2 separate regions of the Homo sapiens genome follow, and region 1 is linked to region 2. A link means that fine-mapping ties the variant in region 2 to the expression of a gene that starts in the linked region. Tissue or cell type: tibial nerve. Region 2 holds a variant in brackets; the other region holds the start of a gene. All regions are shown on one strand. Distances are between the middles of the regions.

Region 1 (8,099 bases), 26 kb after region 2:
AGCCAGGTGTGGTGGCGCGCACCTGTAGTCCCAGCTACTCGGGCGGCTGAGGCAGGAGAATCCCTTGAACCTGGGAAACAGAGGTTGCAGTGATCTGAGATCACCCCACTGCACTCCAGACTGGGCGAGAGAGTGAGACTCCATCTCAAAAAAAAAAAAAAAAAAAATAGTAGAGCCAGCTGGCTCAGTGGCTCACACCTATAGTCCCAGCACTTTGGGAGGCCAAGGGGGCTGATCGCTTGAGCTCAGGAGTTCAAGACCAGCCTGGGCAACATGGCAAAACCCCATCTCTTCTAAAAATATAAAAAATTAGCTCGGTGTGGTGGCATATGCCTGCAGTCCCAGCTACTCAGGGGGCTGAGGCGGGAGGATTGCTTGAGCCCAGGAGGTGGAGGTTGCAGTGAGCCGTGATCGTGCCACTGCAATCCAGCCTGGGCGACAGAGTAAGACCCTGTTCCAAACAAAAACAAAAACGGTATAGTAGTACATGTATACATTTATATTGAATATATAACTTGAGTATAATGAATATTCACATTTTTTCTGATGATATAAACATTTGGAGACCATTGCTTCAGATTGTAAGCCTCAACTTTACAAGACCTTTAGAAGAAGGGCAGAATGATGGAAAGAAGGTAGGCTTTGGACACAGATAGGCCTTGACTTAAATCCTAGCTTCTCAGAGTTTCAGTTCCCTCCTATGTAAAATGGAAATATGGTACTTATCACTTAGGTTTATTATGAGGAATAAATAAAATGTACAGAGCCCCTAGCACAGTGTCTGGCATGTATACATGTGCTCAATGAATGATAGTATCTAGCGCTGGAAGCCTGCAAGAGCCATGAAATCCATGAGAACCAATCAGTGTCTAAAAGCAATAAGGAGAGGATCATTCGTTCTCTTCCTTGTTGGCAGAGAGGGTGATATTGTGTAAGGTGTTTATCTTCACAAGAGCCAAGGGAGGAAGGAGCCAATATCTCTGGGTTCAAAGACAGACCAGGTACACGTGGGTCCAGGCTTGTCTGAGGCATCTCTATCACATGCATTCAGCCTGACACTGCTATTGCTGCTGACTGGAAAGGGGGGGGGTGGTTGTTTTTTAAATCCTTTTGCAAAATAAGCCCAGAATTAACTTTTCTCCAACTTGGCAAAGCTCCTTCTTCCCTCACTTGGCTCCTCATGAGCCCTAAGAAACACACACTGCTCCCAGGATTCCACGTCAGTATCTACCCTGTATACCCATCAATAGATCAGACAATACCTGCTCAAGGCAGAAAGGACTCCTCTGTGTTTCAAGTCCAGAGAAGGGTCCCTGAAATCAACCTCAAATATTTCCAATGTGCCATTTGTGCTGAAGGAGGAATCTAGCTGTTGGGCAGATGTTCCTAGGCACAAGAAAAGGCAGCATATGAGCAACAATATATGCATGGATTTCAGGTATAAGAAGGTTAAGGAGTGAAGAAGAGAAGGAACAGAAGAGGGCTGGGTATACCCTTTCTCAAAGGTAACTCCACAAAAGCAAGAAAACGTTGGCTGGGCGCGGTGGCTCACGCCTGTAATCCCAACATTTTGGGACGCCGAGGTGGGCAGATCACAAGGTCAGGAGATCGAGACCATCCTGGCTAACATGGTGAAACCCTGTCTCTACTAAAACTACAAAAAAAATTAGCCAGATGTGGTGGTGGGTACCTGTAGTCCCAGCTACTCAGGAGGCTGAGGCAGGAGAATGGCATGAACCCAGGAGGCGGAGCTTGCAGTGAGCCAAGATCGCGCCACTGCACTCCAGCCTGAGCGACAGAGTGAGACTCTGTCTCAAAAAAAAAAAAAAAAAAAAAAAAAGACGTACCTAACCTTGAGCCATAGTCCTAGGCAGCCCTCAGGTACCCAAAACACCTAATATCTCCTTGCTTATGCTGTGAGCCACCCTATCTTTCTATGATCTGAGAGCTTTCTCTGATGTTCAATAAATAATTCTAGATACTAAGTTTCCCCTCAACTTATGTACTCCCAGTGGATCCTAATTCACAGTGTCACCATACCTGTGGCCAGATACAAAGGGTATTGGCTGGCTGGGCTCCATGCCTGGACAGCTGGCCGCTCAAGTTCCTTCAGCTTCATGGTCTATCCTGTAGGTGGCAGAAAACTGACATGGCCCTCAGCCCACTGAAAATAGAAACCAGCAAACTTAACAGCCAGATCCAGGGAGCATCTGCGGACAAGAGTTCTTGTTTGTCTTTCTCCATCACAAGATAGGGCATTTCAGGGCAACACAGAGTGACAAATACATGACCATCTGCAGATCTAAAGATAGTTCATTCACCCAATTACTGAAATGTAATGCTTTAAACCTCAAATGATACTCAACCACAATGGCTACCACAGGTCCAGTGGTGATAACCATCAAACCAGACAATCTCTCAGTGATGTTTGTCCATTTCCTTGGCTTTAAATAGCACCCATATGCTGATGATCCCCAAATTTATATCACCATCACAAATCTCTCCTCTAAGCTCCAAGTTCTTATATGCAATTTCTTTTCGTTTTTTAGACCAAGTCTTGCTCTGTCACCCAGGCTGGAGTGCAGTGACACGATCTCAGCTCACTGCAACCCCTGCCTCCTGGGTTCAAGTGATTCTCCTGCCTCAGCCTCCCGAGTGGCTGGGATAACAGGCATGTGCCACCATGCCTGGCTAATTTTTGTATTTTTAGTAGAGACGTAGTTTTACCGTGTTGGCCAGGCTGGTCTCGAACTCCTGACCTCAAGTGATCAGCTGCTTATACGCAATTTCCAATCAAATATTTCACTTGGATATAGTAGATACTTAATGGGGGAGGGAACTCCCATTTTAGTCTGTCTAAAATGGAGTTCTCTATTCTACCATCTTTTATGGTCTTTTTTTATTTGTTTTTTTCAGAAAGGAGCAAAGTCACAATCTCTTCTGTTCTTCCTCCAGTTTTTTTCATCTTGGTAAATGGTTCCACTATCCACCCAATTGCTCAACCCAGAAGCCTGAAAATCCCTCTTGATCCCTCCTTCTCCCTCATTCTCTTCTAATCCATCATTTAGTCTCCTTGATTTAACCTCCAAAATATATCTCAATCTGTCTACTTTTCTCTATTTTCGCTGCCAACAGCCTTTTTGATTGTATCATCTCTCACCTGGAGTACTCCAACAACCTCCCAACTAGCTATCCCCTTTCTACTCAAGCCATTACCCAATTCGTTCTTTACACAGCAGCAGGAGTGAACTTCTAAAATAAAAAATGATTTTGGCATTCCATGCTTAAAATCTTTCAATGATTTCTATCACACACAGAATAAAATTCAAACTTCTTTGAGCCCTGCCCAAAGGCTCCAGCCTACCACTTCAACTTCATCTTTTAATACTTTTCTCATTCATTGTGCTTCAGCCACACTAGCCTTTAATTTCCTGACATTTTCCTTCCTTAGAGCCTTTACAAATGCTGTTCCCTATACTTTGAATGCTCTTCCCTTCACTTTCGACATGACTGGCTCCTTATATCTTTCTGGGCTCAGCTTACTTCCCCAAATAAGTGAACTACCCAATCACAAAAAGCCTCAGTTTTTTTCTTCCTAGTAATTTATAATTACATATTTATTTATATTGACATTGTCAGTCTCTTCCACTAATATGCAAGCTCCATGAGAGCTGACACTGTGTCGGCTTTTGTTCACCATGTTGTAACTAGTTTCCAAACGAATGTCTGGCATATGGTAAAAGCTCGAATGTGGACATCCATTTTAACTCTGTGGTTTCTGATCTAATTCCAATGTATATTCAAGGTCCCATCCCAACAGGCTAGCAAACAGGTAGAAATGATTTTTAAAAATTACACTGAACTTGAGGAGAAAGCTTGGGACCTACTGTGACCTGCTTGAGTAAGCTATAGTCAGATCAGTCTCACCTACAAAAACAGGAGATAGTATTACTTAATCTCTAAGGTACTTTCTAGCGTGAAGAAAGTTTAAGCCTGCCCATTAAGCCAAGATTTCCAAAGCACCTTTAAACACTTGTGGCTACTATCACGTATTCTGTGACCAGCTCAACACTCTACTATACAGTCACCAGTGCCACCTGCTGGTCACAGCCATTTTAATGTTTCTGGGAAAAGATTCCCTAACAACAAAAATAGGAGCTGCGATAAGCAGCTGTGCATTTGATGTGCATATCTCAGTTAATTCTCTCAGTGGTCTTATCAGGTAAGTACTATGATTATCCCCATTTTCTAGAGATGACAACTGGCTAGGCCGGGATGTGAACCCCCATCAGCATCAAGAGCCCGTATTTCTAACCACTGTACTAGTCGCAAGTAAACCCTAGAAAGTGTTTTAATCGCTGACAGTCTAGGAACTGGGAAAATGGGCTCTTAATTCACATTGTTAAGAGGCATCTATTCACAAAAAAAGGGCCCCCGCTGGGGTCAGATTGGCCATGGGGGCGTGAGGGGGAGATGACCAATGAAATGCTCGACAGACCTGCCGTGCAGGAGGGCACCAGCTACCCTTGGCAGTCCAGTCCCTAGGGAGGACGGTCAGCACAGCCTCTTTCCCGCTGTCGCCGAAGCGCGGCGCGCCAGGGTCAGCAATGACAGACCTTCCCGCCCAGCCCAAACGCAGCGACACCGGACGGCCTCGGCTGGGCCAGGTCAGGACCAAGGCGGATGGGAAGGCGCAAGGCAGCAGTGAACAGGGAGACCCTCATCCGGCTGGGGGTTCCCGTGCGGCAGGGACAGTAGAGCCGGATCCAATTCAAGGGTAGACGTAGTGGAGGCCCCCGAGGCCCGGACCCGCGGGCAGGGCAGGCGCGGGCCGGGGGCTCCGCAGCAAGCGGGCTCCCCTCCGCGCTCTGCCGAGAAAGGAGCAGTGCTCCGGGTCCCCAGCGCAATCTCTGCTACCAGGGACCCCAGACCGGCGGGGCGAACCAACCTGTGCGGAAGACCCCGGACAAGGGTCAGGCGCGGCGGCCGGAGCCGCTCCTCTGGCAGGGCTCTCGCGCGGAGCCGGGCGCTGTGGACGGCGGCTGCGGAGGACCAAAGCGGCGCGGACCCCGGCAGGGCACCGTCGGAAACACGCTCCGCGGGCGCCGAGCCCGAGACACTGACAGACCCACGGAGAACGTTTCCAAACAGGATTATAGCTTTTAACCGGGCCTCCCTCACCTACCCTGTGATTGCGCAGCGGGTCAGATCTGGACCAGTAAGTTCTGGTCTATTCAGTTTGAGCCAGGCTCTAGGGCCAGTCTCTGAAAAGGGAAAATACTAACTCATTATCTATGTATTGAAGCGGGAGAAGACCCGGCCCTGGCCCCAGGAGCCCTCAGTGGAATCCATTTAGTTGAAAACGTAAAAAGCAATCGAGGCTGTAAATGGCAGTGAGTGTTGCACTGCAGCCCAGCAGAAACTGGTGCCCAAAACTTGGTTGAATTAAGGGCTATAAGTGTATGGAGGGTGAGACTACAGGGCCAGGGGCTTCCTGAAATATTTGAGGAACATAGGAGGGGTGTTATCCTCTGGAGCTGCAAGAACACAGGTGATATTCCAGCCGATAATGTATTTTTTATGTTGAAGAAATTGTGCCACTTCCAAATAAAAATGTTCTGTAGACAGGTCGGGTGCAGTGGCTCACACCTGTAATCCCAGCACTTTGGGAGGCCAAGGTGGGCATATCACCAAAGGTCAGGAGTTCGAGACCAGCCTGGCCAACATGGTGAAACTCCGTCGCTACCAAAAATATAAAAATTAGCCGGGCATGGTGGTGCAGGCCTGTAGTCCCAGCTACTCACGAGGCTGAGGCATGAGAATAGCTTGAACCCGGGAGGTGGAGGTTGCAGTGAGCTGAGATCACGCCACTGCACTCCAGCCTGGGTGACAGAGACTCCATCTCAAAAAAAAAAAAAAAATTCTGTAGGCAGCTTTAAATCTTAGAAACTTATGCTTAACGCATGAATTCTCTGTATTCCTGCCTGATACACCTCCAAAGATGGGGGGCCAGTTATCATGATGGAGCCCAACTCATTGTGACACGACTCCAGTTCCCTTCCATGTGGATCTGGCAATTTTGAAGTTAGACAGAAGGTAATTCAGTGCATTATCTGTGCCTAGCCCACGCTTCCTACCTACTAAGTACTCAAGTATTTCCTGAACTTCTTAGCTGGCACAACAGGGAATGAAGCCTGAGGAAAAGTAAACAGGGTTAAAAACTAAACCTGAGAGAAGGAGGCAGAAGAGTTACTGATGGAATACTCCTAAAGAAATTTGAACCAGAAGCTTAAGTCACAGTTTCGGGTAGGACATGATTAAGCCAAATTAAAAGTGCACTTTCTCAACTCACACCTCTTAAGAATTCTTGCTGGGAGCAGTGGCTCATGCCTGTAATCCTAGCACTTTGGGAGGCTGAGGCGGGCAGATCACTCGAGGTCAGGAGTTCAAGACCAGCCTGACCAATATGGTGAAACTACATCTCTACCAAAAAATACCGAAAAAATTGGCTGGGCGTGGTGGCATGTGCCTGTAATCCCAGCTACTCGGGAGGCTGAGGCATGAGAATCACTTGAACCTGGGAGGCAGAGGTTGCAGTGAGCTGAGATCATGCCACTGCACTCCAGCCTGGGTGACAGAGTGAGACCATGTCTCAAAAAAAAAAAAAAAAAATTCTTTTTGGCCTGGCATAGTGGCCCACACCCATAATCCCAACACTTTGGGAGACCAAGGCAGGTGGATTGCTTGAGCCCACAAGTTTAAGACCAGCCTGGGCAACATGGTGAAACCCTGTCTCTACAAAAAATACAAAAATTAGCCAGGTGTGTTGGTGCATCCCTGTGGTCCCAGCTGCTTGGGAGGCTACAGTGAGAGGACCGCTTGGGCCTGGGAGGTAGAGGCTGCAGTGAGCTGTGATCACACCACTACACTGCAGCCTGGGCAACAGCGTGAGACCCTGTCTCAATAGTAATAATGATAAAGAATTATTTTCACTTTGTATTATAACTGCTGGTCTCCTATGTAATATTTGAAGGTGATTACTTTGTCTTGCTCAGTTTTATATCTCCAGGGCTTATCAGTGTTTGATACATATTAGACACACAGGTGTTTGTTAAGGAAATGATTATCAAATGCTATAGAGAATGAAGACAGATAAAAAGCCAGTGGGGACCTTCAAAGAATAGCATTCCACAAGTATCCACTCCCTGACCTCACAAAAGGTCTCTCACTGCCTGCACAACTAAGACTCCACATCTAATTTGAATGAACTTGCTTCTTTTGGTCACATAAAATGTATGCTTTTCTATGGGACAGGTTTTCCGGCAATATACTGTAACTTAAGAATATGTCCCCAAAGGAATATGGGTTGGTTCACTTAAAAATAGACATGAGGGCTGGGTACAGTGGCTCCTGCCTGTATTCCCAGTGCTTTAGGAAGCTGAGGCAGGATTGCTTGAGGCCAGGAGTTTGAGCCAGCCTGGGCAACATAGCAAGATCCCACCTCAACAAAAAATAAGAAACTTAGGTTCGTACATCCCAGTAATCCTAGCTACTAGGGAGGTTGAGTAAGGAGGATCCCTTGAGCCCAGGGGTTTGAGGCTACAGAGAGCTATGATTGTGCTACTGCACTTCCACCTGGGGAACAGAGGAAGATCCTATCTCTAAATAAAACAAAAAACAGATGAATGATAGACTCTCAAAAACATAGTTTTTCTCTAAGACTGTTATAGGAGTGTGGATGAGTCATCAAAAGTAATCAAAGCTATGAACATGTTCAGTAGTAACTCACTGACTGTCCTCCAATTCATAAATACAGGTAATGTCAACTTATTAAGAAGCTATGATTCAGAAGCTGCTTTGGAATAAGGAATATTCTTATAACGGAAATAAGATCAGAGGCAGTCGCAGCCTTAGGCAGACAGGACAAAAACACTTATCAGTCCTGTAATATACTTGAAACACGTTAGAGCACATTTTTTTCCAAGTAACCACTATTATTAAGGAGTTTTTTTTGTTTTTTTTTGTTTTGAGACGGTCTGGCTCTGTCGCCCAGGCTGGAGTGCAGTGCCACCATCTCACCGCAACCTTGACCTCCTGGG
Region 2 (8,109 bases):
GGTGCTGAAGCTGCTGATAAAGAAGCAGGGAGAAAGGCCAGAGGGGCAAGCTGTCCTTCTCATGGCTTCCCTAAGGACTAGTCCCCAGTGACTCACAGTCACACTGTTCCCATTACAGCAGAGTTGGGGAGATGAGCAGCCTCCCTTTCTCTGCAGTAAGGACACCTGGTACCTGCCCCCAGTCTCCCTCAGCACATGCCTTGAGGAATGAGGCCCATCTACCATGACCTGCACCCAAGGAGGGCTGGAAGGTTTCCCAAGGGAGGGGAATACATTGTCCTTGTCACCTGCAGGCTGAGTTCTCCTGGAACTCCTGGGGGAGCATGACTCACACTGGAGACAGGGGGCTGTGAGGGAAGAATCCCTTGTAGCTCAGGGGTGAGGCTCATAACTGGAGCAGTAATTGGTGCTGGGGGCATAAATGTCTCTGGCAGCTAAAGAGACAGAAGGAAAGACATGAGTCTAACCTGAGAGACTCCATGGCTCTGGTTTTGGGGAGTGGCAGGAATGACAGTGAACAAGGAGACAGAAGAGTGAGTGTGGGAAACTGGGAAGTGAGGAGACTGGTGTATGTGTGTAAGAGGGAAAGAGAAAGAAGAGGGTTCTGAGGAAAGAAGAGTAAGTGGGAGGAGGGCGGGGACAGTCTGAGAAGGGGAAGGACTGACTGAATCCTCCAAGGAATTAGAACGTGGTCATTGGTGAATGTGCGAGGGAGTGGGTAGGGAAAGATGCATTGACCTTGTTCCTCTGGAGGTTTCCCCTGGGGGCTGGGGCTTCTTTCCAGGAATCTTGAGGTCCTATAGAATAAAAAGATAGAGGTTTTTCGGCGCATAGTGAAAAACACTGGAAGTTTTTTATCTGAAGGCTGGAAGCATTCTTTGAGTTGGAGTTCACCATACCTCCCTCTGCAGACCATCTACACTCCCAGCCACCCTCCACCCAACAGGGCCCTAGCCCTCTGACTTGAGGAAAGACTCCCAAAGTAGTGAGAGGAGCAGGGGAGGCAATAACCCAGAAGAGGGATCCATGGAAGGAAGACTGACCTGGGTGAGGAGTCAAGATGCCAGTGGTTGGGAGGACACTAGAGCATGGGGCACCTGGGTCCCCTGGAAGGTATGGCACAGGGAAGCTTGCAGGAGGGGCTGGGGTGTGGGAGACCATGCGGCCGGGACCTAGTGGTCTCAGAGGAAGCAGAGGGAACAGTCTAGGAGTCTCAGGCAGGGAGGTAGAGCCAGGTCGCATGATGCCTGGGCATGCCATGGGTAGAGGGGAACCAGGAAGAGGCCATGTCCCAGGGAATCCCACCGGGTTAGGAACTTGCACCCTTTGCCCTCCTAATAGCTGTGGCTGAGATGAAGCTGAAGCAGAACAGAAATAGGTCATTTGTCACTAAACTTCATTTCAGGAGCAACTCAGAGCATATCAGGGAGAAACAGGATTGCAATAAAAAAATAATAAATGATTAATACATGTATATGGAAATCTATAATTTACAAAATACTTTTAACTATATTCCTTATTTGACCTTCAAAACAATCCCATAGCATTGAAATAAGCAACACAACACTTTGGTATATTGCCAAAGGTACGAAGCCAGTGATAGCATTAGGAATTCAGACTTCAACTTCCAAGCTCCTCTCACTAGACAGACATACAGCTTCCCAAATCCATGCTGGCCATGCCAATTGCTTTCCTGAGACCTCTGTGCTCTGCCCAGATAGATCTTCAGTGACTCACTCACCAGGCCTTACCCCAGGGCTCAAAGGCAAAGGCTGGATGGCCTGGGGCCCAGGTGCCCTGTAGTCACTTATATTCTGTGTCCTGGGACCCTGATAAGGGCTAGGATGGGAAGGTGCCAAGGGCATCGCTGGTGATGACTGAGGGGTGAAAACCCTTGGCCTTGGAGATGGAGTTGGGACCTATGAAGAGAAAAAAACATCAGCTCTTGGAAAGGAAAGAGAAAGGTAAATAATAGAAAACAGAAAAATAATAGGGAAAATTAATGAAACAAAAACTAGTTCTTTGAGGAAAAAAATCAATAAAATTGATAAACATCTAAAAACTGATAAAGATAAAAAGCAAGAAGATATAAATCATCATCAGAGATGAAACAGGGACTATTACAACAGACCCTGAAGCCATTAAAAATATAAACGAATACTACAGAAAACTTTACATTCATAAATCTGACAACTTATCAGAAATGGACCCATTCCTCAAGAACCATAAACTACCAAAACTCAGTCACAATGAAAGAAGATCTGGATAGTCCTATAACCATTAAAGAAATTGAGTTTGTAATTTAAAAGCTCCCAAAAAAGAAATCTCCAGGCCTAGATGGTTTCACTGGAGAATTTCACCAGTCAAAGAATTAATGCAAAGTTTATGTAATCTCTTCCAGAAAATAGAAGGAACACTTCCTAACTAATTTCATGAGGCCAGTATTACCCTGATGCCAGCAACAGAAAAAGATAGCAGAAAATAAAACTACACATCAATATTTCTCATGAACTTAGACACAAAAATCCTCAACAAAATTTTAGCAAATCAAATAATGTATATAAAAAATAATATTCCACAAGAAAGTGGGATTGATTCCAGGTCATACAAAGCTGATCCAAGATATTTAAAAACCAATCAATTTAATCCCCTATACCAACAAACTAAAGAATGAAAATAACATGATGACAGAAATGATGCAGAAAAAACATTTGACAAAATTCAACACCGATTCATGATCTAGTACACAAGGTGTTATGGTCTGAATATGCTCCCCAAAGTCATGTGTTGAAAACTGAATCCTCAATGCAACAGTGTTGGGAAAGTGGGACTTTTTGTAAGTGTTTAGGTCATGAGGGCTCTGCCCTCATTAATGGATTAATGCCACTACAAAAATGACTTGCAGGAGTGGGTTTGCTTTCTCTTGCACATCTGCTATCTGCCATGTGAGAACACAGCAGCAAGGCACCATCTTGCAACTAGAGGGTGGAACCGTACCTGCTGGAACCATACCTGCTGGTGCCTTGATCTTGGACTCCAGAACCATAAGAAATAAATTTCTGTTCTTTATAAATTTCCCAGTCTGTGGTATTCTGTTATAGTGGCACAAAATGGATTAAGACACAAGGAATAGAGGGAAATGTCCTTGGTCTCATAAAGAGCATCTGTGAAAAACCTAAAGCTAACATCATGCTTAATGCTGAAATATTGAATGTTTTTCCTCTAAGACTGGAAACAAGGCAAGAACATTCATGTTCACTATTTATTTATTTTTTTTGAGACAGAGTTTCGCTCTTGGTGCCCAGGCTGGAGTGCAATGGCACAATCTCAGCTCACTGCAACCTCCACCTCCCGGGTTCAAGCGACTCTCCAGCCTTGCCTCCTGAGTAGCTGGGATTACAGGCATGCGCCACCATGCCCGGTTAATTTTATATTTTTAGTAGAGATGGGGTCTCACCATGTTGGCCAGGCTGGTCTCAACTCCTGACCTTAGGTGATCCACCCACCTCAGTTTCCCAAAGTGCTGGGATTACAGGTATGAGCCACAGCGCCTGGCTTATGTTCACTATTCTTATTTAACAGAGACTGGAAGTCCTAGTCACTACAATAAGGCATAAGAAAGAAATTAAATGCATATAGATTGAAAAGAAAGAAAACTATCTATTTGCAGATTTGTAGACAGCATGACTGTCTATTAGAAAACCCCATGGAATCCACAAAAAACTTCTATAACTATTCAGGAAAGTCACAGGATATAACCAGATCAACACATAAAAATCAACTGCATTTCTATATACTCACAATGAACAAGTGGAAACCAAGAAATTTGATTTTAAACTGCTGAAGAAAAAAATTAAATACTTAGTAGGCATGAGCTGACAGGTGATATAAAAAATTAAATACTTAAGTATGAATTGGACAAAATATGTACAGGATTGGTGTGACAAAAATTATAAAACGCTGATGGAGAAACATGCCACATTCATGGACTGAAAGACTGAACCTAGTAAAGATGTCAGTTAGGAACTTGTATTTGAATACTCATAGCAGCTTTACTCATAATACCCCAAATTGGAAACTATCCGAATGTCCTTCAAAGTTTGAATGGCTAAAAAAATTAAAACTGGGGCCGGGCGCGGTGGCTCATGCCTATAATCCCAGCGCTTTGGGAGGCCGAGGCGGGCGGATCACGAGGTCGGGAGATCAAGACCATCCTGGCTAACATGGTGAAACCCCATCTCCACTAAAAATACAAAAAATTATCCGGGCGTGGTGGCGGGCGCCTGTAGTACAAGCTACTCGGGAGGCTGAGGCAGGAGAATGGCGTGAACCTGGGAGGCAGAGCTTGCAGTGAGCCAAGATCGCGCCACTGCACTCCAGCCTGGGCAACAAAGCAAGACTCCATCTCAAAAAAAAAAAAAATTAAAACCATGGTACATTCACACCATGGAATACTACTCTGCAATAAGAATGAGTGAACTACTGGTACACAGAACAACTTGAATGAACCTCAAAGAAGTTATGCTAAGGGAGAAAAGCCAATCTCAAAAGGATACATATTGCCATGATTCTATTTAAGTAACAATCGTTAAATAACAATGATAGAGCTGGAGAACATATTGGTGAAGCCAAGGATGAGGGAGGCAGAATAAGTGCAGCTATAAAAGAGGTAACAC[A/C]AGAGAGTCTTGTGGTGATGGTAAAATTGAGTATCTTGATTTTGGTGGTGGTTACACACCACAATGTGACAAAACTGCATAAACACACATAAACACACACCTAACAATATGTAAAACTGGTGGAGACTGAATCTGAAATCTGAATCCATGGATTGTACTAATGGCAATTTCTTGGTTTTGATAGCGTACTGTGGTTGTGTGAGATGCCGACACGGGGCGGGGTGTTGTTGGGATGCAGGAGACATCCCAGTACATTTCTTTGCCACCTCCTGTGAATCTATGGTTATTTTTAAATGAAAAGAGACGGGGAGAGGGAGAGAGAGAGGAGAGGAGGGGAAGGGGAAAAGGGGAGACAAGGGAGGGAAGAAAGGGAGGGAGGAAAGGGAGGGAAAAAAAGAAAAGGAATTAGGGTGGGGATTGAAGGTGGGACAAGATGAGCCATCAGAGCTTCTGCCTGGTAACTGTATCCAAATCTCCCTGGATTCTGTTCTCCGGCAGCTCTAGCAAGCTTCTGGCCTCACATCTTAACAGTATCCAATCCCCCCGGGCACTTTGGCCAGAACCTCTTTCCTCTCCCTCAGTACCCCCAACCACACACACACCTCTCCAAACTATCAGCAATTCTGTCAGTTCTATCTACTAAGTACTAAGTATTTCAAATCCAACCTCACTGGCTAGCTTTAGTTATTTCATGTCTTCATCATCCCTTACTATAGCCTAACTCCCTCCAGCCTGGCCCTTCCTAACATACAGCTAATTATGTCACTCTTCCTAAAACTGTTCAATAGCTCCTCCCTGTCAAGTTTAAGTTCTTTAGCACAGAATGCTAGGTCCTTAGTGATCTAACTCCTACCTGTTGTTCCAGCTTCATCTAACTTCACAGCCACAAACACCTGTGTTGCAGCCCCAATTAAATAATAGTAATTCTCAAAAGGCTTCGGCTTACTCTTGCTTCAGTGCCTTTGTACATGCTATTCTCTGTGCCTGAAACAGTCTTCACTTGCTCATCCCTTTGCCTAAAACCTTTTAATCTTTGAAACTCTGATCAAACATCCGACTTGTTCTGAAACACTCCCTGGACTGCCCCCACAACCTCACCATACAGAGTAAACTACTTTCATCTGTGTGATCTTATAGCCCCTTGCCATACCCCAATCATGGTATTTATGAATTTTACTGTAGCTATTTTTTTTTTTTTTTTTTTGAGACGGAGTCTCGCTCCGTTGCCAGGCTGGAGTGCAGTGGTATGATCTGGGCTCACTTCAACCTCCACCTCCCAGGTTCAAGTGATACTCCTGCCTCAGCCTCCCGAGTAGCTGGGACTACAGGCACGTGCCACCATGCCCAGATCATTATTTTGTATTTTCAGTAGAGATGGGGTTTCACCATGTTGGCTAGGATGGTCTCGAACTCCAAACCTCATGATCTGCCCGCTTTGGCCTCCCAAAGTGCTGGGATTACAGGCGTGAGCCACCACGCCAGGCCTACTGTAGCTATTTTTTACATATCTATCTTTCGACTACACTATGAGCTACTTGAGGGCAAGTATCACAATTTTTGCACCTTTATGTCCTAAGAGCCTAGTAGTTCAATAAACAGTTATTTATTATAAAAAGAACTGAATCTATGTTCTATGGAAGTTGGGAATTTTCATCAGTTTTGTTCACAATATATTCCAAGTGCCCAGAACCATGCTTGGCACGTATTATTGAATGAACAAATGAATGAACAAACGAGGTCTTACCTGGTGAGAAGGCTGGGATCCCAATCTGTAAGATGATGTCTCTTTAGAGTGGAGGGTAGCTCCCACAACAATCCGGGGGAAGGGGAAAGGGGGAGACTGTTGGCCCAAGACAGCAGAACCTTGAGCATGAAAAAGCCGATCTCTTAGCTGCTGAACTGGTGGCTATAAGTTTTAATGAGGAAGAGCTGTGTCAAGAAATTAAAACAATCAAGGCCCCAGGTAGCAGTCAAATTTCAGCTGACCCTCTACACCAAGCTTGTCCAACCTGTGTTATTTTGTTGTTGTTGTTGTTCTGTTCTGTTTTGTTTTGTTTTAGGTTTTTAGCAGCCTGAAGCCATGGTTTTTGGTTTGTCTCTAGTGATAAGTGGAAAACCGGGATGAGGAAGGGGCTTTACTGGCCCAACCAGAAACAGAAACTAAGCACCCACGACTGTATTCTGACCCTTGGACACCCCCGCTCTATACTCTAGCCCCCTTAGAGATGACTCAAGGTTCCTGAATCCCTGCCAAACACTTGCATGCCTCCCTCCTTGCTATTCTTTCTGCTTAGAATGCTCTATATCTGCTGGTAAGCTACTTCTCTTTGAAGGTCCAGCTCAGCTGTTTTAACCATTGAGAAGCCTTCCTTGACTTCTCCAGGCAAAAATCAGTCCCTTCCCTGGACTCCCACAGTGCTCAGTATAAGCTTCTGTTATGGCACTATAAGTCATCAACATCTGATCTTCCCCCAGTAGATTGTGAGGTGCTTAAGGGATTCCATCTTATCTATCCTAGGAGCTTCAGCATTAGCATAGTGCCTGGAATATGGAAGTGCTCAATCAATGTTAGATGACTGAATGAAATGGTTTGCTCTCTCCACATGGCCCCACTTACCTGAGCACAGTCCCTGGGTAGAAAGCTCATGGCAGTGGCCAGGCTGCCCTGGGCTGCCAGGAGGTTGGCATACTGAGTGACCCTGTAGGTTGTGGCAGGGCCTGGGCTCACCCCATGAGGACCCCGCAGTTGCTCCAAGCTCCTGTTAAGAACCATCACCTTCTCCATCAGGTCCTGTAAGGGCAAGGATGAGGGTGGTAAGCCTTCAATGAGGCATATCCTGCTCTCTAAGTCCACGCAGCTCATTCAGGGATCTCCCACTATGGGTACAGATGAGGGCACCTGACCATACCTAGGTGAAGGCAGCAGATGATGACACGTAAGAACTGTGACAGAGAAGGGCCACCTGGCCTCACCTCCCAAGCTGTTAGGATTGGATTTAACTGGACCCATCTGGGTCTTAGATTTTTGTACATCTCTACCTCTTCCTTTTGCTTTTTTACCCTTTCTGCTTATACATCACCAACCACAGACTCTGTCAGACTAATTGTTTCATGTGCGACTTTTGTCTCTCCATGAGTCTGTGACCCCCACTTTCTGTGGTCACCCACAGAACACCTGGAAGTTTAGATCCACAGAACTTTCCACAGTAGCTAATAGAAGGGCCAAGCCACAATTACTCAAGTACTGAATACATCTGTAAAACCAAACCTGAAATAGGAAAAAAATTATGAAGACTAACACTGAAGCAGCTGCTGCTTAGTCTTCTCTGAGGGAAGAGGAGAAGATCCCAGACATTCAGGACCTTTCGCTCCTCCCTAACACCGTGGTTCCAGCCTGTCCCAGAAGATTCGCCTCTGCTAGCTCTGCACATCT

What was found. PIP is the estimated chance that this variant, and not a neighbour inherited with it, causes the effect.
Region 1: SEC31B starts here. The variant in region 2 is fine-mapped to the expression of SEC31B in tibial nerve (GTEx, PIP above 0.99). The same link has a PIP of 0.9 or more in fibroblasts.

Annotation. Positions count from the first base shown.
Region 1 is chr10:100,514,834-100,522,932 of GRCh38, forward strand. It overlaps SEC31B (SEC31 homolog B, COPII component), which reads right to left and starts at 5,028. Exons shown (of 26, transcript NM_015490.4): 1 at 4,949-5,028; 2 at 2,041-2,164; 3 at 1,263-1,386. The coding sequence starts at 2,119.
Region 2 is chr10:100,488,965-100,497,073 of GRCh38, forward strand. SEC31B (SEC31 homolog B, COPII component) reads right to left here. Exons shown (of 26, transcript NM_015490.4): 18 at 7,294-7,467; 19 at 6,421-6,582; 20 at 1,742-1,919; 21 at 1,044-1,358; 22 at 739-797; 23 at 288-434; 24 at 1-10. Among named protein-coding and RNA genes, the nearest start is that of SEC31B, 27 kb to the right of the region's middle. The variant A/C (reference allele first, on the strand shown) is at 4,677.